Linked DNA regions of Homo sapiens. The protein of the gene in region 1 purifies or fractionates together with the protein of each later gene. This does not show direct contact. Each region holds a gene or a part of one and is shown in the gene's direction. Other genes may lie near its edges.

Region 1 (3,407 bases):
AGACCTCCCCATCCTCCCGAACTCCTCCTCCTCATCTTCTCCCTTGCACCTTCCAACCAGCACGGTATTCCCTGGCTCCAATAGGCACTGTGAGCACTCACGTTCTCAACCTGTGCCCCAGTTTTCCAGAGCACTGGGGATATATCCCTCCTTGGGACTCTTGGGTATAGTAGCTTTTCTTATCATCTGCCCTAGCTCGAATGCTTTTTCCTGGAAACCATGAACCTCCTCCATGTATAAAGCACGCCCGTACCTTCTTATTCCTCTGCCCTTCCTCCCACATTCCCATCCCAGCTCTCCATGGAGGACACCACTTCCATTCTTCCGAAGCTTAAGCGAAACTCTAACGCCTATGGCATTGGGGCCCTGGCCAAGTCATCATTCTCAGGTGAGACTCCTGATGTAAGAATGCCTTCAGACAAAATAATGCTGACAGACTCCTTGGCTCAGTCTCCCTGCTCCTTCGAGGTTGATGAAGACCCTCATCCCCACCCCCTGACCTATTCACCCTTCTGTCAAGCCTCCCATCCTCCAGGCCATTCCCTCCACTACCCCATCTATGGAGTCCTTAGGGGAGCCTGGCCCAGTGGGATGGAGCCTCATGGGGCTGGGGTGGGAGGAACTGGGAGGGTCTGGTTATGGGTATTGTGTGATATTCTGGAGGATGTGGGAAATGTCTGGCCCCATAGGGATCTCACGGAGCATGAAGGACCATGTGACAAAGCCCACAGCCATGGGGCAAGGCCGGGTGGCCCACATGATTGAGTGGCAGGGCTGGGGGAAGACACCAGCTGTTCAGCCACAACACAGCCATGAGTCCGTGCGCAGGGATACGGATGCCTACTCCGACCTCAGCGATGGCGAGAAGGAGGCACGTTTTCTAGCAGGTACAGGTACCCTAAAGCCTCAAGAGACACATTTGCAGGATGGCCAGGGACCGACCCTCCAACCTGATCCCCTGTGGCAGGATTAGCTCCATCCATACTTTGACCGTAGATTCACATTTCCCAAACAGCTCTAAGTATTTTGATGTGGTAATTCAAATAAGTGCCCTCAAACATATTTTTATAATCATCTCAGAAAATGCGTGTAATTAGATGGGATTTGTGGGTCCACCCATCCCAGATGCCTTCTCTCCTCATCACGGGACTATCCAAACCTGAACTCCCTCAAGTGCAGGGAAAAAAATGGGGAGACCTTGGTCTTTGAAAGAAAGAAAGGCCTTGGGGATCTCTTTTAGCCTTTGCCCTTTAGCATTTCGAGTCATGAATTTGCCTACTAGACTCATTACTTGTGACAACCACTAGAAGATTAAGGGAACTGTGTGAGAGACGGGAGGCCTACAGAAGAGGTTTAGTTCCAGGAAAGTAGTGTAGGTCTGATAACAGGCATGCAGTGTGCCTACAAGAGTGGCCAAGCTGTAGTGCAGGTCTAAATAAGATGCCTAGAAAGGGATAGGTCTGGAAGAGAAAGGAAGTATTGAGTTGGTGGTATGGGTGGGAGGAGAAATATCAGTGAACAGGGTGACAAACATGTAGGGTGGGGGGCAGGAGCAGTACCAGCTTCAACACGCTCATGGATTTGACTAGAATAGGGATCCCCAGGTCTACCCATCCCCTTTTCCTTCCAATCCCTTGAATTTCAGTTTTATATTATGGTGGACCCACAAGCCCACGATGCTCTCTTGGGGGTTCTCTGTTGATCTTGAAATCTACTCTCTAGACTGCAATTCCTAAAAACCTCCAAAGATAAATATCTGGAAATCTCGAATTTGAATCTCTTAGGATATCTCATCAGAAGACCCCTAACTCTTTCCCCTAGGAATCCTAAATCTGATTTTTTAGGAAGTCCCCTACAATTCTCCCTTCTCTGGGGACATACACAAAGGCTGTGCTGTCCAATACATTAGCCACTGGCCTCATGTGGTTATTGAGAACTTGAAATGTGGCTCTTCTGAATGGAGATGTGCTTATAAGTATAAAATACCAGCTGGATCTCAAAGGCTTCATATAAATAAAAGAATGTAAAATATCTCATTAATAACTTTTATTTTGATTATATGTTGAGATGAAAATCTTTTTATATATCGAATTAAATAAGATCTATTATTTCAATTGATTTAACCTGTTTCTTTTTAATTTTAAATGTGGCTACTGGAAAATTTAAAATGATATAAGTGGCTTGCATTATATTTCTACTGAACAGTGCTGCACTAAGATGTTTTCCTACCCCACGCACATGTCTAAGGATTCCCTGAGGTATTTTGTGGTTGTTGCATTTCTTCCCCCAGGCGTCATGGAGCAGTTTGCTATCTCTGAGGCCACACTCATGGCCTGGTCTTCCATGGATGGTGAGGACATGAGTGTGAACTCCACCCAGGAGCCATTGGGCTGCAACTACAGTGACAACTACCAGGAACTGATGGACAGTCAGGGTGAGAGATGTTCCAGAATCCAAACTCTGGAGCCTATGAGGCCTCCCCAACTATCTCAGCTGCCTCCACTCAGCTCCGTTCTTTTAAGACTTCCTTGTCCATCTCAGCTTTCCCATTGTCCTCCCTACTCACTGTGCACTCTGTGTCTTACTGCCAGTTCTCTGTGCTGTCTCTTAGCTGTCTCTTGTGCTGTCTGTGCTGTCATTCCTGCCCTTGACATTCTGTGGCCCCACTGACCTCCATGATTCTTTTTCCAGATGCCCTGGCTCAAGCACCCATGGATGGATGGCCTCACTCTTACGTGTCCCAGGGTATGTACTGTCTGGGGTCGTCAGATGCCTGGGAAGCCAGCGATCAGTCCCTCATTGCCTCTCCGGCCACAGGATCCTATCTTGGGCCTGCATTTGATGACTCACAACCCAGCTTGCATGAAATGGGACCTTCCCAACCAGCTTCAGGATACTCTGCTCTGGAGCCTCCACCTTTGCTGGGGGGAGACACTGACTGGGCTCCGGGGGTAGGCGCAGTGGACCTGGCAAGGGGCCCTGCTGAGGAGGAGAAGAGGCCATTGGCACCTGAGGAGGAAGAGGATGCGGGATGCCGGGACCTGGAGTCACTTTCCCCACGAGAAGACCCTGAGATGTCTACCGCTCTCAGCCGGAAGGTGTCTGACGTCACATCCTCAGGTGTGCAGTCCTTTGATGAGGAGGAAGGCGAGGCCAACAACTAGTTTCCTCCCCCAATGCCCTGCCTTCCACTCCCACCTGAGGGCCATGGCTGTGACCCATACCCTCCCTCCCCCCAGCAGTACAGCTGAAACTGGGCAGACAACATTGGGGAACCCAGGAGCTTCCAGTCCTCTCCTGGAAATGGAGGACCAGGATGGGATTTTATCCAGGCTTACACTCTAGAAACCCACAGGCCTGGGAACTGAGACCTGGGCAACTAGATGGCCGTGAGCTTGGTGTGGCTG
Region 2 (3,500 bases), on another chromosome or scaffold:
CAGATGACCATTCTGAATTGTGTTTCATTTTCTCTGTGAAGGTGAGCTTTCCACTGGAAAAGAGAGAGCGGGCAGAGTTGCATCGTCCCCAGGCCCTTGTCTTCTCTGCGTCAGGCATGATTGCCACCAATACACGTCATGCTCCACATTGTAGTTGTTCAGACCTCCAGAGTCTCTTCCGGGGTTTTGCTGCTGCTGAGTTCTTTCATTCCAATTATGATCACTTTCCTAAGGTTCCAGGTGGCTTTAGCCTTCTGCACATGCTTTTTTTGCATCATGCCTTTCAGATGGATTCCTGCCTGCCTCAGCCTAATACCCTCCCTCCCCAGAGACCTAAGGCTTCCTGGGATCTCTGGTCTGTCCACTTTACCCAGATCTCCTTGGACTTTGAGGGAACAGAAAACTTCAAAGGCCATACCTTGAATTTTGTAGCCCCCTTCCCCCTGTCCATTTGGGCCTGCCTACCCCTCCGCTGGCAGCAAGCCCAGGCACGGAAGCTTCTTTTGGCCTCAGAGGGGAGGCTGAAACCATCAGCCAGTTTTGGAAGTCCTGTCCAGTCTGAGGCTCTTGCCCCTGACTCTATGTCCCATCCGCGGTCAAAGACTGAACATGACTTGAAAAGCTTATCAGGACTTACAGAAGTCATGGAAATTCTGAAAGAAGGCAGTAGTGGTATGGACAACAAAGGGCCTCTGACAGAGCTGGAGGATGTAGCAGATGTTCATATGCTTGTACATTCCCCGGCCCATGTCCGCGTGAGGCTTGACCACTACCAGTACTTGGCTCTGCTTCGCCTGAAGGAGGTGCTGCAGAGGCTTCAGGAGCAGCTGACTAAGGATACAGAGTCAATGACTGGGTCTCCCCTGCAGAATCAGACAGCTTGCATTGGAGTTCTCTTTCCCAGTGCTGAAGTGGCTCTGCTTATGCATCCTGCACCCGGTGCTGTCGATGCTGACTCTGCAGGCTCAGATAGCACTAGCCTCGTAGATTCAGAGCTATCTCCTTCAGAGGATCGGGAACTGAAGTCTGATGCCTCATCAGACCAGGGCCCAGCAAGCCCTGAGAAGGTCTTGGAGGAAAGTAGCATTGAAAATCAGGATGTATCCCAGGAGAGGCCACATAGCAATGGAGAACTGCAGGACTCAGGTCCACTTGCCCAGCAGCTGGCAGGGAAGGGCCATGAGGCAGTAGAGTCCCTACAGGCCAAGAAACTGAGCAGAACCCAAGCCTCCAGCTCACCAGCTGCATTGAAGCCCCCAGCTGGCAGGGAGACTGCTGTGAATGGACAGGGTGAGCTCATCCCCTTGAAGAACATTGAGGGAGAATTGTCAAGTGCTATTCACATGACCAAGGATGCCACCAAGGAGGCTCTACATGCCACCATGGACCTCACCAAGGAAGCTGTGTCCCTGACTAAGGATGCCTTCAGTTTGGGCAGAGATCGAATGACCTCCACCATGCACAAGATGTTGTCCCTGCCCCCAGCCAAGTAAGTGGCTCTGTACCTCCTTCACTCATCCCATCTCCTTCTCCTAGTTCTGATCATTGGGTTTAAGGCCTCTTACTATGTGCATTTCTAGATTGGGAAGTACCATATAGTCCAGGAGAATGCATAGAATGGCCTATTTAATGGGCAGTTTTCAAGCCAATATTTATTGCTTCTTAGAATCAGATTATCTCCTTTTTCACTGATTCACTATTTTTTCCCCTCAAGACAGGCCTTACCGTGTTAGCCAGGCTGGTCTTGAACTGCTGGGCTCTGCAATCCTCCTGCCTTGGCTTCCTGAGTAGCTGGGATTATAGACACCTGCCACTGTACCCAGCTTGCTTCACAATTATTGATACAAATATGCTATATCAGAATAATAATAATGGCATATATATAATATTATTTTCAGTGGGCTTTCATCTAATTTTTTTGTTTGATTTGATCCCCACAGCAGCCTGGTAAGGTGGCCTCAGACATTTGTACCCCCAGTTTATAGCTGAGAAAACTGAGGCTTTAGAGAGGATGAGCTCATAGATATCCTATATCTTGTAAATAGAAAAGTTGTGGCTTTGGACTTGTTTTTTCTGGTACCTTATCAGTGTCTGTCAGAGTAATAGAGAAGGAAGAATTTCATCCATTCAGCAAGTATCTTGTGAGCGCTTTCTGTGTGCTGGGCTCTGTGTTAAGCGCCAGAGATAGAGTAGGGAGTAAACAGGAAAACACAGAAATGCACAGTGAGACGAGTGGAAAAGTATCGATTTTCCCATGGGTGCCTCATGGTTTTAGGAAAGATAGAGTCTAAGGGAAGTCTTTCCTGGAACACTTTGTGGTTTAGAGACCATGGTATAAAAACAGTGCATTTAGAGCTTTTGTCTAAGTGAATTATCTTAAGTGGGTCTCTAATGCCTGTGGGTGAGCTAGTACCTGCTAGGACAGACAGCAAGGAGGAAGGAGAGGAAAACTTCAAGGGTCGAGTTGTATAATAATACTAGCCAACATTTACTGAGTGCCTTCTTTGCCTGACAAGACACAGTCCTAAGTACTTATAATATTGGTCCACTGGATTTTTATAATAGCCCTATAAGGCAAGTATTAATATCAATCCCCATCTCACAGATGAGGAAACTGAGGCTCAGAGAGGTAAGAAACTTGCACAAGATCACACAACTTGTGAGTGGTGGGGCAAGGATTAAAAGCCTGGACTTCTAATCACCCAATGTGCTGCCTTTTCTAAATGGAGACAAGTAAGGGAGATGGAAAAAGAGCAGAGGTGAAAAAGAGAAAAGAAAGGTGTGTGAAATGAGCCCTTTTAAAACATCAACAGTGACTTCCTAACTGCCCAAGCCCGTGGCCTTTCCTCAGTCCCCCTTCTCCTGGACTCCTCTATGGTAGTTAACATTGCTGATCAGTTCATTCTGAATATTTGTAACCCCACCCAGTTACTCTCAATTCTCTGAAGGAGTCTTCTTTTTCCTTGGCTGCTCTCTTCTTCCTTTTATCCTATAGGTGTAAATACTCCACAGGGCTAGGCTGTCCATATTCTGATCACTTTTGTCATAATTTTAATTTTTAATTTTTTTTTTTTGAGACAGGTCTCATTCTGTTGCCCAGTGGTGCGATCTCTGCTCACTGCAGCCTCGACCTCCCAGGTTCAAGTGATCCTCCTGCCTCAGCCTCCTGAGTAGCTGGGACCACAGGCATGCGCCACCACGCCCAGCTAATTTTTGTATTTTTGGTAGAGATGGGGTTTTGCCATGTTGCCCAGGCTAGTCTCAAACTCTTGGGCTCAAGCGATTCACCCACCTCAGCCTCCCAAAATGCTGGGATTACAGGTGTGAGCCACTGTGCCTGGCCTATAATTTTAATTTTTTAAATTATAAAAATGGTTTGTGTTTATCGTGTTGACAGTGTAGGAAATAAGAGAGTAAAGAAGAAAATATAAAAATCACTTGTAACAATCCACAGATAACCACTGTTTACATTTGGGTGTATTTTCTTCCAATCTTTGTAT
Region 3 (3,500 bases), on another chromosome or scaffold:
CCCCTTCCTCCAAGAAAACTTTGTAGACATTTTTTCCTAATCATCATTCCCCATTAAGTTGTAATGCCAGCAATAAACTGGATATCCATATGCTACATGTATATCTGTGCTTTATACATAAAAATAATAAGGGTTTGTTGTTCTTGTTGTTTGTTTGAGACACAGTCTCACTCTCACCTAGGCTAGAGTGCAGTGGTGTGATCTCGACTCACTGCAGCCTTCACTTCCTGGGCTCAAATGATCCTGCCACTTCAGCCCCCTGAGTATCTGGGACTACAGGCATGCACCACCATACCTGGCTAATTTTTTATTATTATTTGTAGAGACATGGTCTCACTATATTGCCCAGGGTGATCTTGAACTAGGCTCAAGCAATCTGCCCACCTCAGCTTCCCAAAGTGCTGGGTTTACAGGCTTGAGCCACTGTATCCAACCAGAATAATGTTTTTTTCCCCCCTTGAGGATGCGCTTAAATCTATACAAGGGACTCGTGTTATATGCTAAGCTGCAATTTGCTTTGTTTACTCAACACTATATGATGGGCATCTTCCCCTGTCAGTATATGTAGAGCTAACAGAAATTTTTAATGGCCATGTAAAATTCTGTATGGATCACTGTAATCTATTAACCAATTCCCTATTGGGTTTTTAGATTATTCCAGTTTTATCATAGGAAATGGTTCTATAATGAATATCCTTATAGATAACTCTTAATTCTTTCTTAGGAATAAATGCCTGCAAGTAGTATTGATGGTTCAAGAGTTGGAAGTTTTAGCTGAGTGTAATAGCATGCTTCTGTATTCCCAGCTACTCAGGAGGCTGAGGCTGGAGGATCGCTTGAGCCCAGAAGTCTAGCCAGGGGAACATAGCGAGACCCCATCTCATAAATAAATAACTGTAGCAAGATCATGTCTCATAAGTAAATGAATGAAAGAGAGTGGGAGTTGGAAGTGTTAAGGCTTTTGACATTTAACACCAAGTCAGTCTTCTGGGAAGGTACTACTTGAATACCTGTCCACCTTTAATCTCTCAATACCCATTTTCCCATTCCCTCATTAAAACTAGGCAGCAGCCTTTATTCAAATCTTTGCTAGTCTGATAGGAGAAAGCTCCTACTCTAATGATGAGTAATAAGGTCATTTAGATTTCTTTATCATTTGCATCTATTGGTACATTGCTTATCCATGTTGTTTTCATTTTGGAGGAAGGTTTTCATATTTCCTTAATGAATTATGAGAACTTTTATATGTGGGGGATATTAATCTTTATTATATGTTTTTAAAATTTTTATTTTATTTTTTTGAGTTGGAGTCTCGCTCTGTTGCCCAGGCTGGAGTGCAGTGGCGCAATCTTGGCTCACTGCAAGCTCTGCCTCCCAGGTTCATGCCATTCTCCTGCCTTAGCCTCTTGAGTAGCTGGGACTACAGGTGCCCACCACCACGCCTGGCTAATTTTTTGTATTTTTAGTAGAGACGGGGTTTCACCGTGTTAGCCAGGATGATCTCGATCTCCTGACCTCGTGATTCGCCCGCCTCAGCCTCCCAAAGTGCTGGGATTACAGGCGTGAGCCACCGTGCCTGGCCAAAAAATTTTATTTTTATGTTTTGCTTTTAAATGTAATTTACCTTTTTTTTAGGTGAAAAAAGTTTATTTCGTAATACCTATACTTTGTTACCCGTTTATCCTGCAATAGTTGCAATAGTATTCTTTTTTTTACTTTTTTTTTTTGGTCACCCAGGCTGGAGTGCAGTGCCGCGATCTCGGCTCACTGCAACCTTTACCTCCCAGGTTCAAGCGATTCTCCTGTCTTAGCCTCCCAAGAAGCTGGGATTAGCAGAGATGAGGTTTCACTATGTTGGCCAAGTTGGTCTGGAACTCCTTACCTGAACTGATCTGCCCACCTTGGCCTCCCAAAGTGTTGGGATTACAGGCGTGAGCCATTCATCGCACCTGGCTTACAATAGTATTCTTAGAAATATCTTTCTTACCCAAGCTAGTATAATTACCTGTATTAGTTTTGGTTTTTTTACAGCTTAACTTTTGATCATTTTTCATTTTAAACCACCCATACCAACTCTGAAGAACAAGGAACAAGGTTGTAGAATTGCTGTGATGGCTTCTCCATAGCTCCTATTTTGTCATATCCTTCCCTCCCCCACATCCCTCATCTCTCTATTAAATAGAAGAATTTGAATTTCCAAGAGATAATTACATTTCTAATTTTTGATAAGAGTTAGCTTTTGTTTTGTCCTCTCCCTTTTTATTTTTTGAGATACGGTCTCACTATGTTCCCCAGATTGGAGTGCAATGGTGCCATCATGGCTTACTGCAGCCTTGACCTCCTCGGCTCAGTGGATCCTCCTGCCTCAGCCTCTGGAGTAGCTGGGACTACAGGTGGGTGCCACCACACCCAGCTGATGTTTGTTTCTGATCCTAGGAATCGGATGCACAAGGACATCAAGTGGCTGCCAGGTTCTCCCACGTTCTGCAGAAGGATGCCTTCCTTGTGTTCCGCTCCCTGTGCAAGCTGTCCATGAAACCCCTTGGTGAAGGCCCTCCAGACCCAAAGTAAGCAGACAGCAGTTCTTGGCCACCTTCAGTCCAATGATCCAGCAGCACATGGTACTGTGTTTCACACTTCCCTTGTTCCAAGAAGTTTCAGTGTCATGTCTCTTTGTCAGTGTAAGTGCAGGAACGGTTTTACAACTTTTCAGACTCATGCAGTCTCTAGAGTCCTTTCATATGGAATTGTCTCTGTATCCCCACCAACCAAGATTTTGCCCAGTTTTGCTTTTCTTGGCATATGAATGCTAAAAAAGTCTGTTTATTGAACACATAAAAAACACATTTTTACTAGCTAGTGGATTGAATCTCTTGATGTGGGGTGTGGAGGGACAGGATGCCTGCAAACCTCAGTTCCCTGTTCTGTTGGAAACCTCTGCTTCATCGATACAGATGTAAGCCCCAGATTCGACACAGGGAAGCCAAACATTTCTTTGTAGTAAACAAACTACTACAAGGATGTCAGCGCTGTGGAGTGAAGAAAGCAGAGGCTTCAGAGCCAGAGAGAGCTGCATTTAGATCTTGGATCCTCCACTTGAGAGCAGTTCCTTGGCTATATGACTTGCCAAGCCTCATCTGAAAAATGGGAATATGGAAAATCATCTTACAGGATTGATTAAATGAAATATCGGTGTTGTCCTGAGCATGGGGCCTTGTACTTTATAAATTATCTCTATTGTTCCTGTCATTAGTCATTAATAATAATCCTCAATTCATCTATTACTAATGCTGCTAATACTGTGATAGGTATTAGGAAAATAGGCTGGGTGCGGTGGCTCACACCTATAATCCCAGCACTCTGGGAGGCCAAGGCGGGTGGATCACTTGAGGCCAGGAGTTCGAGACCAGCCTGGCCAACAAGATGAAACCCCACTTCTACTAAAAATACAAAAATTAGCTGGGTATGCTAGTACATGCCTGTAATCCCAGCCACTCGGG
Region 4 (3,500 bases), on another chromosome or scaffold:
TGAGCTATGATAGTGCCACTGCACTCTAGCCTGGGTGACAGAGTGAGACCCTGTCTCAAAAAGAAAAAGAGAAACCAAAAAGAAGGCAATCCAGGCCAGGTGCAGTGGCTTACGCCTCTAATCCCAACACTTTGGGAGGCCGAGGTGGGCAGATCACCTGAGGTCGGTAGTTCGAGACCAGCCTGACCAGCATGGAGAAACCCTGTCGCTACTAAAAATACAAAATTAGCCAGGCGTGGTGGCGCACACCTGTAATCCCAGCTACTCGGGAGGCCGAGGCAGGAGAATCACTTGAACCCGGGAGGCGGAGGTTGCAGTGAGCCGAGATCACGCCATTGCGCTCTAGCCTGAGAACAAGAGTGAGACTCCATCTCAAAAAAAAAAAAAAAAGAAGGCAATTGGCGGCCCCCGGCCAGCTGGGTGGGTGGCTGCAGGAATCTGGGGTCCCCAGCACCCTCTGTGACTCCCACCCTGTGGACCTCCTAGTGTGCAAGATGACCTGCCACAAGAAGTGCGTGCACAAGATTCAGAGCCACTGCTCCTACACCTACGGGAGGAAGGTGAGTGTACGAGGCCTGGAACTTTCTACAATGACACTCCACTCACGGCCAGGTGCACCAGGAGGTGGTGCTTGATGTGAGGGCCAAGCGAAGCATTGAGCAGCCAGTAGGGGGCGGCTGTGGCCTCTGGTTCTGCAGAACACACCATTGTCCCCGGTTCTGTACAAACTCCTTGAGGCCCTCAGGCAGGGCCCAGGCCTGTGTGTGTGTCTCAGCTCCCCCAGCCCTGCTCATCCTTGCTCCTGAGAGAGTCCTGAGCCATGCAGAGGGAGGCCCCCCAACTCTGTGCATAAGGTTGGGGTCCTGGGTGCTGGGGGTGCAGCAAGAGTCAGGGTCTACTTCTGTGAGGTGGCTGTGGGGGCTAGGTTATAGCTCTCTCCCCACGAAGGACCACCCATGCCTTGGGTGGCCTACAAAGGAAGCCCCTGCCCAGTGGCTGCCATGCTGGCCTTGACTTCTGCAGCCCCACACCCCCAACAACCACGCAGAAGGAGACAGGGAGGGACAGAACAGCAGAGGAAGCCCTGAGGGCCTTGTGCGGGACCAGGAGGCAGAGGCCCCCAGAGACAGCTGGAGAGGAAGACAGCCAGGCCCAGACCTGACCCCCAACCCCGGCACTGCAGGGCGAGCCAGGCGTTGAGCCTGGCCACTTCGGCGTGTGCGTAGACAGCCTGACCAGCGACAAGGCCTCGGTGCCCATCGTGCTGGAGAAGCTCCTGGAACACGTGGAGATGCACGGCCTGTACACCGAGGGCCTCTACCGCAAGTCGGGTGCTGCCAACCGCACTCGGGAGCTCCGGCAGGCGCTGCAGACAGGTGGGCGCTGTGGGCAGGTGGGTGCAGTGCCAGGCCCCAGGCACAGCCGTCCTGCCAGTGCGCCGCTCACCAGACCCACCCCACCCACCCCACAGACCCCGCAGCAGTCAAGCTGGAGAACTTCCCCATCCACGCCATCACAGGGGTGCTGAAGCAGTGGCTGCGGGAGCTGCCCGAGCCCCTCATGACCTTCGCACAGTACGGCGACTTCCTCCGAGCCGTCGGTGAGCCCCATGGCGGTGCGGGTGGCAGCAGGTGGCCACAGCCAGGATACAGCGTTCGCTGTGACCAGCCCAGGAGGCAGGACCACCCAGTTCACAAACTGAGAAACTGAGGCCCAAAGCAGTCGGCCCAGCCAAACCGGGTCCCCAGTTTGGGGTGGGGCCAGGACACCTCTGTAGCCATCCATTCTTGCCTGGGCACCACAGGGTGGATGGCACCTGTGCATCTCAGGTCGTGTTGGTGGGGACAACAGGCACCTTGGGGACCCTTGGGAGCTGACGTCCTCAAACCCCACTGCCTGCAGAGCTGCCGGAGAAGCAGGAGCAGCTGGCTGCCATCTATGCCGTCCTGGAGCACCTTCCAGAAGCCAACCACAACTCCCTGGAGAGACTCATCTTCCACCTTGTCAAGCAAGTGCCTCCCCACCTGCCCTCTGTGGGGTTAGGGTCGCATTGGGAACCCGCGAGGCAGCATTTCCCAGGAGGACCCGAGCTGGCGTTCTGTGGTGGTTTCGAACCAGGATGCAGACCACTGTTGGGGGTTCTGGGAGGGGGCCAGGCTGCTGGGCCGCCCGGGTCCCTTGAGGTACCTCTCTGTGCTGCGGAAGCATCTCCCAGTGCTGGGCTGTGGCACTGCTTTCCCAACAGCCACCCCAGGGCTCAGAAGTTCAGTCTCGGGGCTCCCTGGTACCTCCCTCCCTCGGCCCTAGCCATCCTCTAACTGCCAGTGGCTGTGCAGGGTGGCCCTGCTCGAGGATGTCAACCGCATGTCACCTGGGGCGCTGGCCATTATCTTCGCACCCTGCCTCCTGCGCTGCCCTGACAACTCGGACCCGCTGACCAGCATGAAGGACGTCCTCAAGATCACCACGTGAGTGCCCACCCTGCCCCGGAGGCATGCTCAGGGCAGCCCCACCCAGGACCCCACGACAGCTCCATCCATCCCTGTGTAAATAAATGTGTAAGAAAAGTCCAGAGCCGAGTGCAGCGGTTCACACCTGTAATCCTAGCTACTTTGGGAGGCCAAGGCAAGAGGATCACTTGAGGCCAGGAGTTCGAGACCAGCCTGGGCAACATAGCAAGACCCTACAAAAAATTTGAAATTGGAAATTTGTATTTAAATATAAAAATTTAAATTTCCAAATTTAAATTTTTAAATTCAAATTTTTATTTAAATATAAAAATTTAAATTTTTGTCTCTACAAAAAATTTAAAAATTAGGCCAGGCGTGGTGGCTCACACCTGTAATCCCAGCACTTTGGGAGGGCGAGGTGGGTGGATCACTTGAAGCCAGGAGTTTGAGACCAGCCTGACCAACATGGTGAGACCCCATCTCTATTAAAAATACAAAAATTAGGCTGGACGAGGTGGCTCACGCCTGTAATCCAGCACTTTGGGAGACCGAGACGGGCAGATGACCTGCGGTCGGGAGTTCGAGACGAGCCTGACCAACATGGAGAAATCCTGTCTCTACTAAAAATGCAAAATTAGCCGGGCGTGGTGGCGCATGCCTGTAATCCCAGCTACTTGGGAGGCTGAGGCAGGAGAATCACTTGAATCCAGGAGGCGGAGGTTGCAGTGAGCTGAGATCATGCCATTGCACTCCAGCCTGGGCAACAAAAGCGAAACTCTATCTCAAAAAAAAAAAACAAAATACAAAAATTAGCCAGGCCTGGTGGCATGTGCCTATAATGCCAGCTACTGGGAGGTGGAGGCTACATTGAGCTGAGATCGCACCACTGCACTCCAGCTGGGCAACAGAGTGAGACTCCGTCTCAAAAAGAAAATTTAAAAAAATAAAAAATATATATATAAACTAGCCAGGTGTGGTGGCAGGCGCCTGTAATCCCAGCTACTCGGGAGGCTGAGGCAGGATAATTGCTTGAACCCAGGAGGTGGAGGT
Region 5 (3,500 bases), on another chromosome or scaffold:
GAGATAGAGTCTTACTGTATTGCCCAGGTTTGTCTAGAACTCCTCCTCAAGTGATCCTCCTGCCTCACCCTCTCAAAGTGCTGGGATTACAGGCATGAGCCCCTGTGCCTGGCCTTCTTTTACTTAAAAGAAAAATCGTTATAGCCATCCTAGTAGGTATGAAGTGGTATGTCCTTGTGGTTTTGATTTGCATTTCTCTAGTGACTAATGATGTTTAGCATCTTTTCGTGTGCTTATTGGCCATTTGTGTATCTTTTTTGAAGGAAATATCTTCAGGTCTTTTGGCCATTTTAAAATTGGATTGTTTGCCTTTTTTGTTGTAAGAGTTATTTATATATTCTTGACACTAGTCCCTTATCAGATATATGAGCGGCAAATGTTTTTTTCCTTTGTGTATGTTGACTCTTCACTTTCTGAGTGGTGTCTTTTGAGTCATAAAAGTTTTTAATTGTGATGAAGTCCAGTTGATCTTTTTTTTTTCTTTTGTCTTTTGTGCTTTGGGTGTCATATCAATTATTTTATTTTTAGTATAGCAAGTGAATTGGAAATTTGTATATGTTCCATTATTAGTCATTGATTTGAAAGAGTGACGTCTGTACTTCAGACTTGTATTTTTCTGTTACTTTTCAACTCCTGACCTATTTTGTTCACTCTAAGACATCACTCCCTTTGTATTTCCTTGGTGCCTAATGTCACTTGTGTTTCGTAGGGTGTGGTTCCAACTGCTCAGCGTGCTGCCATCGTTGTAGGAGTAGAGCTACCAGTCTATGATATTACTAAGAAGCATTTAATATTGTCAGGAATGATGGGCGATACAATTTTAACTCACTTCGTGTAAGTAGGATGGGATGTGCTCATTTTATTTCCAGCATTTTGAGCACAAAAAGCCTCTTTTACTGAAATCCTCAGGTGGAATTTGATAACTGGTACGTATGGCCTAAATTCCCTTGTCTCTCCTATTATCAGAACTTCAAGCCTTATGAACACTTTATACTTCACAGAAATGCCAGGTGCTATGGGGGCTTGGGTACTTGGGAACATTGTCTAATACAGCAGCCTATCAGAGGTCTATTTGATTTACATTTATCCATACATAGCTTCTATATCTAATAAGCACATCTATTATTTGCTTTGGTTAATTTTGTTTGAGAAAGCAAACTTTTCTCAGTGGGAATCAGAAAAAAAGGGGTAAATAAGGTCTGTGAAACTAAAGCACAGTTTTTTGGCTAAAGACTGTTACTGATCTCATTTTACATTTTCTTTGTCTTGCAACCTTTATGATAATTTTGTTACTCAAATGCATTTGGCATGTGATGCTGTGGTTTGAAAAATTTATGTAACTAATACATGGTGCATGATACTTTCTACTTAGGAATCTTGTTAGGTTTAGAAACTCTCCTTTAAAAAAAAGGCTGAGTTTCAGATTGAAAATTGAAGGGACAGCCTTTGAATGATGTCTCTTTAGAAAAATTTCCTGTCTCTTTAGATTGTAACGAAAGGCCAAGTGCCAGGTTTTATCTGATGGGTCTGAGTTATATTGTACAGTTTACGTTTGGCCTAATTTCTGTTTAAGTGGGCAGGGAGTGAAAGTGGGGTCGATCTACTTAAACTTTTCCTCTTAGTTCCAGCTTTACATGTGGTTTGGCTGGGGCTCTGGCCTCCAACCCGGTTGATGTGGTTCGAACTCGCATGATGAACCAGAGGGCAATCGTGGGACATGTGGATCTCTATAAGGGCACTGTTGATGGTATTTTAAAGGTAAGTACATTGTGGATTTGGGTTACAATTTGGCTTTCTTTGATGTCTTAGACCTTCCTTCAGTTCTTATTATTAGTTGCTACATACCATTTTGAAGATGAAAGAATCATATTTTTTTAGTAGCTTCTCAGTTATTCCCAGGTAGAAAAGCTGTCTCCTTAGCAATCTGCTAATTTGCAGTGGTACTTAATATAATGATTCCCATTTGAATGCTTTAAAATACAGGATGCTTTTATTAATAGTATCATGTAGAATTATTGATAGAAAAGACAATATATCCCCCATTTGCCTACTTCATACAACACAGAGACCCTGCAATAGAAAACTCAATACTTAAGGAAAAAAGCCTGTATTTTATTTCAGTTCACGGTTATGCTGTTGTTCACTTTGGCTTTGAAAGTTCCTGCTGTTGTGTTTGTGGGAACTGAATATTCTAAAAGTATTACATCATTACTGGTGATATTATTGCTACTGAAAACAAATTGAGGCTAAAATATGATGTTGCCATATGGTTTCTCTCCTGTTATCAGTTTTGTTTAACAACTATTACATATTAGACACCATTTTAGTAGTTAGAGAGAAATTACAGTTATTACAAAAGTACTATAGGTATACAAACGGATCATCAGTACAGCCTGATAAGTGATAAACTCAAGAGTTCTCAATTTGGAAGCATTGAGGTAGGCTCCCTGTAGATGGTGGCATCTTGAATAACAATAACTCATATCCACTGAGTGCTTTTTTGTGTGTCAGCAACTGTCCTTATGAGACTTATGTGTATTCGTTCATTGAATCCTCACCATTACTCCACGAGGTAGACACTGAAGCACTGAAAGATTAAGTAAGCTGCCTAAGGTTTCACAGCTACTAAGTGGGAGAACTGGAATTTAAACTCAGATCACTTGACCTCAAACTGACATTTACCTCTCCACTATGGTGCTTTCCTCATATTGGTGGCCAAGGGTTAGATTATAAAGGATACTGAATGCTATATTGAGGTGCTTGGACTTTTTTTTAACTTGTCAGGGAGCTGTTGAAAGTTTTTAATCAGATTAGCTTTGCATTTTAAATAGATTACTTTGGCTTTATGGAGACTGGATCTACCACAGTGGTTCCTCATCTTGGGTACACATTGGAATCACTTGGGAGAACTTTCGCAGCTCCCTCCTCTACCTTAGACCAATTAACTCAGAACCTGGGGAGTAAGGTCCAGGTGTCAATATTTTAAACTATATCAGGTGACTGCAATGTTCACCTAAGGTTGAAGACTACTAAGGGGATAAGCCTGGAGCCATGGTTCTTCAAAGTTTAACATGCATCAGAATTACCTGGAGGGCTTGTTAAACTGCAGTTCACTTGGAGCCATCTCCAGATTCTGATTTAGTAAGTATGGAGTGGGACCTGGAAATTTGCATTTTTAATAAATTCCCAGGCAATACTGATGTTGCTAGTCTGGAGACCACACTTGGAGAACCACTGACCTACAGATAGGGAAGCTGATTAGAAGGCTCTTGTAATCTGAGAAAGAGGGGATGAAGGCCTGAACTTGAGCATGATAATGGAGATATAGAAGGTGGGACAGAGTCAAGAAAGAATTAGTTGATAGAGTCAGCAGGATTTGATTGACTGGATGTGGAGGGGTGTGGGAGAAAAGAGGTGTCAAAGATAAGTTCTGGGTTTTTGGAGTTGGTGACCAGGTGGTGACATTCATTGACAGAGGCATCACAAGAGGAGCACGTCTT
Region 6 (3,500 bases), on another chromosome or scaffold:
TAGGCATTCAGATATTTGAGAATGAATGCTATTCTGTAGAGGGAGCAACTTGAATCAGAGATCTGGGAACACGTAGTGTGTTTAGGGAACTGCAGGTCTTGGCATAGCTGGACTATTGGATTAAGAGGAATGGTCATGAGGCAGGAGGTGGGGGGTCATGAAGAGCCTGGGGTCATATGCTAAGACAGGTGGACTTGATGTAAGTCCACCTTGCAAGTAACAGAACCACGGAAGGATTGTAGATGATCGTATTTGGCAAGCTTTTTCAAAGTATACATGCCTGCTAGTTTCCCTTAGGGGTTCTTATCCTGAAGACTCCCTCGCTCCCATACATGTCTGTGTTTATATATGTACAGTTGACCTTTGAACAACGTGGGAGTTGGGGGCACCAACCCTCTGCACAGTCGAAAATTCACAATAACTCTTGACTCTCCAAAAGTTTCATTAGTAGTAACCTACTGTTGACCTAGCTGATAACATAAGCAATTCATTAAGGCTTATTTTATATGTTATGTGTATTATGTACTGTATTCTTAATAAAGTATGCTAGAGAAAAGAAAATGTTACTAAGAAAATCATAAGAGAAAATATATTTACTATTCATCAAGTGGGAGTGGATCGTCATTAATCCACTTCATCCTCATCACTTCACATCGAGTAGGCTGAGGAGGAGGAGGAAGAGGAGGGGTTGGATTTGCCCTCTCAGGAGTGGCAGAAGCAGAAAATCCTCATATAGGCCAGGCGTGGTGGTTCACGCCTGTAATCCAGCGCTTTGGGAGGCCAAGGTGGGAAGATAATTTGAGCTCAGGAGTTTCAGACCAGCTTGGGCAACATAGCAAGACCCCCGTCTCTATTGAAAAAAAAAAAAACTTAAATGTAAAAATCCTCATGTAAGTAGACCTGTGCAGTTCAAATGTGTGTTGTTTAAGGGTCAGCTATATATACGTATAAACACACACACAAACACACACAGAGTCACATGATGCATAACAACGTTTTAGTCAGTATATGATGGTGGTCCCATAAGATTATAATATCGTATTTTTGCTGTATCTTTTTTGTGTTTATATGTGTAAATTTGTACCATTGTGTTACAATCACTTATAGCATTCAGTACAGTAACATGCTGTACAGGTTTGTAGCCTAGGAGCAATAGGCTAACCACTATACTATATATAGCCTAGGTATGTAGTAGGCTATACCATCTGAGTTTGTGTAAACACACTCTGTGATGTTTGTACAATGATGAAATTGCCTACCAATGCATTTCTCAGAGTGTATCTCTGTTGTTAAACAGTGCATGACTGTATATGTGTATACATATATCCCCAGCTGATTCTGATCCTTTTCTCCTTCCACTCCCAGGACCACTAAATGGGAAGTTCTTGTTTTTAAGCCCTAAAATGATATAATGGTAGTTGGCTGCAGTCTATAGAGCGCAAACTGATACAACTATATATTTATTAATGAGAAATGTGGGATTTGAGAAGGTTTTCCAGCCTTATAAGCAAGAGTATTTATTACAAGGGTTGCAACTTTACATGAGAACTCCAACAGTGAAAAGACCTTTCCTTCATATAGTCTCTCTATATATGGACATAAAAATGTTCATGTTTGTATGTTTCACCTGCCACCCTTTTATAAACTCCTCATAAATGCTATTTGCTGCCACTTATATTCTTATGCCAAATTGTGGTCTCAGTTAACATTCTGTATTTTCTTCTATTACCTCAACATTTCATCTTTCAGTTATTGAGTTCAGTTATTGACCAATTATGCTATATTCCAAATAAAACCAGATGTTGGAAATACAAAGAGAAAATGAACTTTCCTACCTTCGAGATAATTTCATTTTAGTAGGGAGACAGACATGCATACAATTACAGTGTTGTGGGATACATACCATAATAGGTGTAGTTAGTGGGAAAAGAAGTGACAGGGAAAATATGAATGATTCCATTCGGGACTCTGGGAGAGCTTTCATAGAGGAGTGGTGCCTAAGCCTCTAAAGCATTTAGAATGCGCCTAACACTTTAGTGTCAGCACATATGACAAGTGTCCTGACTCTTTGTAAGCAGTTATACGTGTTAGCTTTAATTATTATCATTACTACTACTTTTGTAATCAGAAAAGTACTTTTTAAAAAATTAACAAATCAGAAGTCATTGGTAGACGTGTAAAGAGCAGTTTCAGGGGCTGGTTGGATAGAAGCTGAATGGCAGGGGCTGAATAAGAAATAAAAAATTTGTCACAGGCCAGGCACAATAGCTCACACCTGTAATCCCAGCACTTTGGGAGACCAAGGTGGGAGGATTGCTTGAGCCAGGAGTTTGAGACCAGCCTGGGCAACAGAGCAAGACTGTACCTCTTTATTATTATTATTATTATTATTATTATTTTATTTTGTAGAGATGGGGTCTTGCTATGTTGCCCAGGCTGGTCTTGAATGCCCGGCTTCAAGCAATCCTGCTTGAAGTGTGGAGGATTGAGATTAGCCTCCCAAAGTGCTGGAATTACAGGCATGAGCCACCATGCCCAGCCAAGACTGTCTCTACAAAAAAAATTAAGAATTAACTGGGCTTGGTGGTATGCACTTGTAATCCTAGCTACTCGAGAGGCTGAGGCAGGAGGGAGGATTGCTTTAGGAGTTCAAGGCTGTAGTGAGCTATATAATGGTGGCACTGTACTCCAGCCTGAGCAAGAGAATAAGCTCTTGTCTCGAAAAGAAGAAAAGAAAGTTATCACAGCCATATACTGCTCAACAGTACCTTTTATTGGAGCGCTTGTTTCTTGAATGATTTTTCCTTTTATTTGCACCCATATAGTTTTGTTTTATTTTATATAATTTGGGTTTCAAATGTTTGTTTTAATGTAATTTTTAAAGCTAAGTAGAGGCAAATGGAACAGGTTTGTCAGTGTGGCAGGTGAAACCATGTGAAGTTGATCAGATTACTCTAGGGCTTAATGTCTCATCTTTGCTGTCTTCATTAAATTTCCCAAAGAGATACTGACAATGATAGCAATCAGAAATATAATAAAATATTATGATAACTCAGTATCAATTTATTGATCCTAATTTTCTTTACATCTCTTTTTTTTACTATATGAAAATCTAACATCAGAACACTCTGCTCCTGTTCACGTCATAGAGTAATATTTTGTCAAAGATGAAACCTTACCAATGTAGTCTTTAATCTGTCCTGATTTATTTTACAGTATGTGCTCATTACTTTCTTGCCTTATCCACAGAAGGAGCTCAAAAAGTGGGATGAGTTTGAAGATATTTTAGAAGAGAGGAGGCATGTCAGTGACTTGAAATTTGCAATGAAATGCTACACACCTCTTGTCTATAAGGGAATTACTCCATGTAAACCAATTGATATTAAATGTAGTGTTCTCAATTCTGAGGAGATTCATTATGTCATTAAACAGGTAAGTGATTCCCTCTTCAACCATGGCCAGATTTGTTCATTGTCAACAAGTTCTTAATTCTATAACTT
Region 7 (3,500 bases), on another chromosome or scaffold:
GTGAGCCAGAATTCAAGCTCCGTAGTGCCATAAAATGATGCCTGTTTCAAGGTTTAAATTTAACTGCTGTAAAAGTATTAAGAGTGTATGTGCTACATACAAAAAAATGTGAGAATGTTTCAAGCATTTACTAAGTGTCTACCATGTGTTGAGTACGTTATGCACATTAAGTCACTTAGTGTTCTAATTAACCCTGTGATAAATATGCAAGTGTTTTTTACACACGTATGATGTGTTCTACAGCATTATTTATATCAGTGACAGATTTTAACACCAGGAAAATAAATTGTAATAAACCCCTTCTCTAGAAATTAAGAGTGTCATGTGTGTTTGTATTGTGTGTGTATAATTGTTTGTTGAGACATGGTCTCACTCTGTTGCTCAGGATGGAGTGCAGTGGCGCGATCATGGCTCACTGCAACCTCTACCTCCAAAGCTCAAGCAATCCTCCCACCTTTCTACCTCCCTCGTAGCTGGGACTGCAGGCATGTGATTCCCAAGCCTGTCTAAATTTTGTTGCTGTAGTAGTACTTTTCGTAGAGATGAGGTTTCATCATGTTGCCTAGGTTATTTGTATTACTTCTACTGTATATAAAGATAAGTAAATTGAAGCTCAGAGTTGTTAAGTGATTGATACAAGGTTACACACTAAGTGGCAAAGCCAGGATTCAAACCCAAATCTGTCTGACTGCTGTTAAGGACCAGGAGCATGAGTTTGGAATGTGGGCGGTGGTCGTCTTAACCTCCAGACTTACCTCCTGCACAGAAACCCCAGCTGCGAGGTCCACCAGGAGCCGGTGACATACACAGCTATTGACCCTGGCCTGCAAGATGCTCTTCACCAGTGTGTCAACAGCAGGTGCAGTCAGAGGCTGGAAAGTGGGTAAGCAGAATCTAGTAAAGAATTGAGGTTTTCCAGCTAATATTTATTATTCCTACTCTTCGTGTTTTAAAAAGGTATGTCAGTTTTTCAGATCTGAAACTGATTTCCATAAGCCTTTACCCACCAGATTAAATGTTGTCTCGTTCCCACTTATTACCCGTATTTAGCGTGTGTACCATATGTTAGTAGCCTCATCTGTGAATGGGAGTTTTTCTTGAAATAAAAGACTTGTGAGGGGCCATGGCATGAAGCAGCAGGGCAAGGGAGGAGGAACCCCTGAGGTCCAGAAGCAGAACCCAGTGGTCAAGGCTCTAGGTGTGATATTTTGAAGCTCATTTATTTTCCTTTCTTAGGAAACACATCTGCTTCATGATAGTTTTGAGAACTAAAAACTACATGTTCCCCGCTCTCTCCCCACTCCTCAGGTGGGATTAGGAGTTTGGGACTAGACATTATGGAAATAGTGGCTGTGGTAGACTAAGTAAAGGGGAGTTGGTTTTTAGCTTATTGTAGCTGTAGCTTGCCATTTTATTAAACAGTGTTTAGAGGGATAGCTTACTCTGCTTTGCGTGTGTATTTTAGCAAAGGAATTGTGGCATCAAACTGATTAATTTGGGATGTTATACAGTAGCCCCAAGTCAATTAAGTTTGGGAAATGCTGACACTGCATATATTCTCTTGAGACAGTCACAATGCATGTAATACACTAAAGGCTCTGAGAAATTGGCAGTGAGGAAACCTGTGGTGACTGGCCAAGTATTTCCAAACTTATTGGACTTTTTTTTTTATTTTTTTAAATGACCCCACACTTGGGGGATGTTAAGCCAGAGTCTAACAAACATTGGGGTCATTTCTGTTTGGTCTTGTAAGATGATTTTGAATAGCCCCATGATGTGTGGATGTCATTATTTAATTCACAGAGAGCAGTTTTATTTCTCTCCTTTCCAAGTTGTTAAGAGGCATAAAACAGTTATTTCCCTGGCAGTCTATTGCTATTCTCATTTTATAAGGAAAGGAAACTAAAGCTCAAGAAATTCACAGCACTAGTAAGTAATGGAGATCCTGAGAACTGTCTGATGCCCACACTTAAGTGCTGTCCCCTGCCCCACACTGCTTTATAGAAGACTAAGTATTGTTTTTCTGGCAGGGACTGTTTTGGGGTGCTGGATTGTGAATGGTGCATGGTGGACAGTGATGGAAAGACTCACCTGGACAAACCCTACTGTGCCCCCCAGAAAGAATGCTTCGGGGGGATTGTGGGAGCCAAAAGTCCCTACGTTGATGACATGGGAGCAATAGGTATGTTTGTTAGATGCCCCAACAATTTGATTCTTGAATATACAATTTCCTGCCTATATGCTAGGACATCTTAAAATAATCCTCTTCCCAACTTCCCTGATTCCTTTGCTGGTAGTCTTTAGTTACAAAACCAAGGCAGATAATTACCTTCAGAACTGGCTAAATATTCTATGCAGAGAGAGTGAGTGGCCATCTGTGCTGCCAAATTTTACAAGCCTGGAATTCATTCCCATAAAGCTTGTTCTGATAAATATAAGGACTGGTTTCTGCATGGCCAAACTCTGGAGTCTGTTTGGATATGCACGCCAGCTGTCAGAAGCACAGGGCCGTGTACGGAGTGACCACTGTATGTCTAGTGCCTGCTAAAACCTTCACTCACAACTTTTGCAAGGTAGAAGTCTTATAGCTACAAATCAGTATTTGGGGCCTTGGAGTCAACAGAAGCCAGAGCTACCCAGTGCATCTGGGACAGCTTAGGATGAAGCACAAGGACACCACAGGGTGGACAGCCCCTGGGATCAGTCTCCAAGACCTCAAAAATACTGCCAAGATTAGATTGCTTACCTGAGATTTTTTTTTTCAGTCTTTCCAGAATTAGCACCAAGGCCTAATTCTTAGATGGCAGTAGAGTCAAATATTTAAATCCTTAGTTAATACCTTGATTTTTAACATCACTTACATCAGCCTGTCTAGAAGAAAAGCTCATATGTGGGGAAGGATTTTGAGCTTGTATGTTACTGCTGAACTAGGTGAGGGTACATATGTGAAAGTGACTTGGCTCTGAGAAATCACTTTCTATGCTCACCTGCAGTTTCCTATCTGGAAAGCACAAATGGCCTTTTAAAGGAAACCCATAAGCTTCGAAACTTGATCCGGTTAGCGCATATTTATTGGACCTGGTGCCTTTTATTTCAGTGGTTACTCTGTACTAGGTGACTTTTCCTCTCTTCCAAGAGTAACTCATACCCCAGGGAGCTAGGACTCTGTTGGTGTTGGATGCTGCCTGTGTAAGCAATTCTTCTGGTCTGCTCACTCTTCCCAGCAGTCCTTGCCATTTGTGCTCCTGCTCTGCCTAGCAACCAACACTGGAGAACCAGGAATTAAATGTAGCCTCCGCTCCCACGTTCCCATGCGTCATGTTTGAGGAACTCAAAGCCTAACTAAGCATCTGTTTATCTTCCGCCAACCCCCTTCCCACTGTATTCCCTCCCATCTCACCATCCTTACTTTCTTCCCCACTTGGGAAATCTTAACAAGAAACATCTTCTTGCTCTTTCACTGAAGGTGATGAGGTGATCACATTAAACATGATTAAAAG

What was found.
Region 2: the proteins of FAM131B (region 1) and BLTP3A purify together in Homo sapiens (affinity purification with mass spectrometry; 2 studies listed by BioGRID and IntAct, with this or other methods). This does not show direct contact.
Region 3: the proteins of FAM131B (region 1) and ARFGEF2 purify together in Homo sapiens (affinity purification with mass spectrometry; 2 studies listed by BioGRID and IntAct, with this or other methods). This does not show direct contact.
Region 4: the proteins of FAM131B (region 1) and MYO9B purify together in Homo sapiens (affinity purification with mass spectrometry; one large-scale study listed by BioGRID and IntAct). This does not show direct contact.
Region 5: the proteins of FAM131B (region 1) and SLC25A14 purify together in Homo sapiens (affinity purification with mass spectrometry; one large-scale study listed by BioGRID and IntAct). This does not show direct contact.
Region 6: the proteins of FAM131B (region 1) and GNPAT purify together in Homo sapiens (affinity purification with mass spectrometry; 2 studies listed by BioGRID and IntAct, with this or other methods). This does not show direct contact.
Region 7: the proteins of FAM131B (region 1) and CACHD1 purify together in Homo sapiens (affinity purification with mass spectrometry; 2 studies listed by BioGRID and IntAct, with this or other methods). This does not show direct contact.

Annotation. Positions count from the first base shown.
Region 1 is NC_000007.14:143,356,307-143,359,713, reverse strand, and holds part of FAM131B (protein FAM131B), read left to right. Parts: exon of another isoform or gene 1-164; intron 165-195; exon of another isoform or gene 196-294; coding exon 295-388; intron 389-689; coding exon 690-887; intron 888-2,290; coding exon 2,291-2,434; intron 2,435-2,691; coding exon 2,692-3,164; 3' UTR 3,165-3,407.
Region 2 is NC_000006.12:34,858,083-34,861,582, forward strand, and holds part of BLTP3A (bridge-like lipid transfer protein family member 3A), read left to right. Parts: intron 1-41; coding exon 42-1,489; intron 1,490-3,500. UniProt on the Homo sapiens protein: Tube-forming lipid transport protein which probably mediates the transfer of lipids between membranes at organelle contact sites. May be involved in the retrograde traffic of vesicle clusters in the endocytic pathway to the Golgi complex.
Region 3 is NC_000020.11:48,966,711-48,970,210, forward strand, and holds part of ARFGEF2 (brefeldin A-inhibited guanine nucleotide-exchange protein 2), read left to right. Parts: intron 1-2,436; coding exon 2,437-2,567; intron 2,568-3,500. UniProt on the Homo sapiens protein: Promotes guanine-nucleotide exchange on ARF1 and ARF3 and to a lower extent on ARF5 and ARF6. Promotes the activation of ARF1/ARF5/ARF6 through replacement of GDP with GTP. Involved in the regulation of Golgi vesicular transport.
Region 4 is NC_000019.10:17,204,777-17,208,276, forward strand, and holds part of MYO9B (unconventional myosin-IXb), read left to right. Parts: intron 1-486; coding exon 487-560; intron 561-1,183; coding exon 1,184-1,376; intron 1,377-1,471; coding exon 1,472-1,600; intron 1,601-1,902; coding exon 1,903-2,008; intron 2,009-2,336; coding exon 2,337-2,468; intron 2,469-3,500. UniProt on the Homo sapiens protein: Myosins are actin-based motor molecules with ATPase activity. Unconventional myosins serve in intracellular movements. Binds actin with high affinity both in the absence and presence of ATP and its mechanochemical activity is inhibited by calcium ions.
Region 5 is NC_000023.11:130,363,919-130,367,418, forward strand, and holds part of SLC25A14 (brain mitochondrial carrier protein 1 isoform 1 precursor), read left to right. Parts: intron 1-709; coding exon 710-834; exon of another isoform or gene 835-1,622; coding exon 1,623-1,758; intron 1,759-3,500. UniProt on the Homo sapiens protein: Transports inorganic anions (sulfate, sulfite, thiosulfate and phosphate) and, to a lesser extent, a variety of dicarboxylates (e.g. malonate, malate and citramalate) and, even more so, aspartate and glutamate and tricarboxylates.
Region 6 is NC_000001.11:231,247,712-231,251,211, forward strand, and holds part of GNPAT (dihydroxyacetone phosphate acyltransferase), read left to right. Parts: intron 1-3,249; coding exon 3,250-3,432; intron 3,433-3,500. UniProt on the Homo sapiens protein: Dihydroxyacetonephosphate acyltransferase catalyzing the first step in the biosynthesis of plasmalogens, a subset of phospholipids that differ from other glycerolipids by having an alkyl chain attached through a vinyl ether linkage at the sn-1 position of the glycerol backbone, and which unique physical properties have an impact on various aspects of cell signaling and membrane biology.
Region 7 is NC_000001.11:64,676,129-64,679,628, forward strand, and holds part of CACHD1 (VWFA and cache domain-containing protein 1 isoform 1 precursor), read left to right. Parts: intron 1-766; coding exon 767-883; intron 884-2,030; coding exon 2,031-2,182; intron 2,183-3,466; coding exon 3,467-3,500. UniProt on the Homo sapiens protein: May regulate voltage-dependent calcium channels.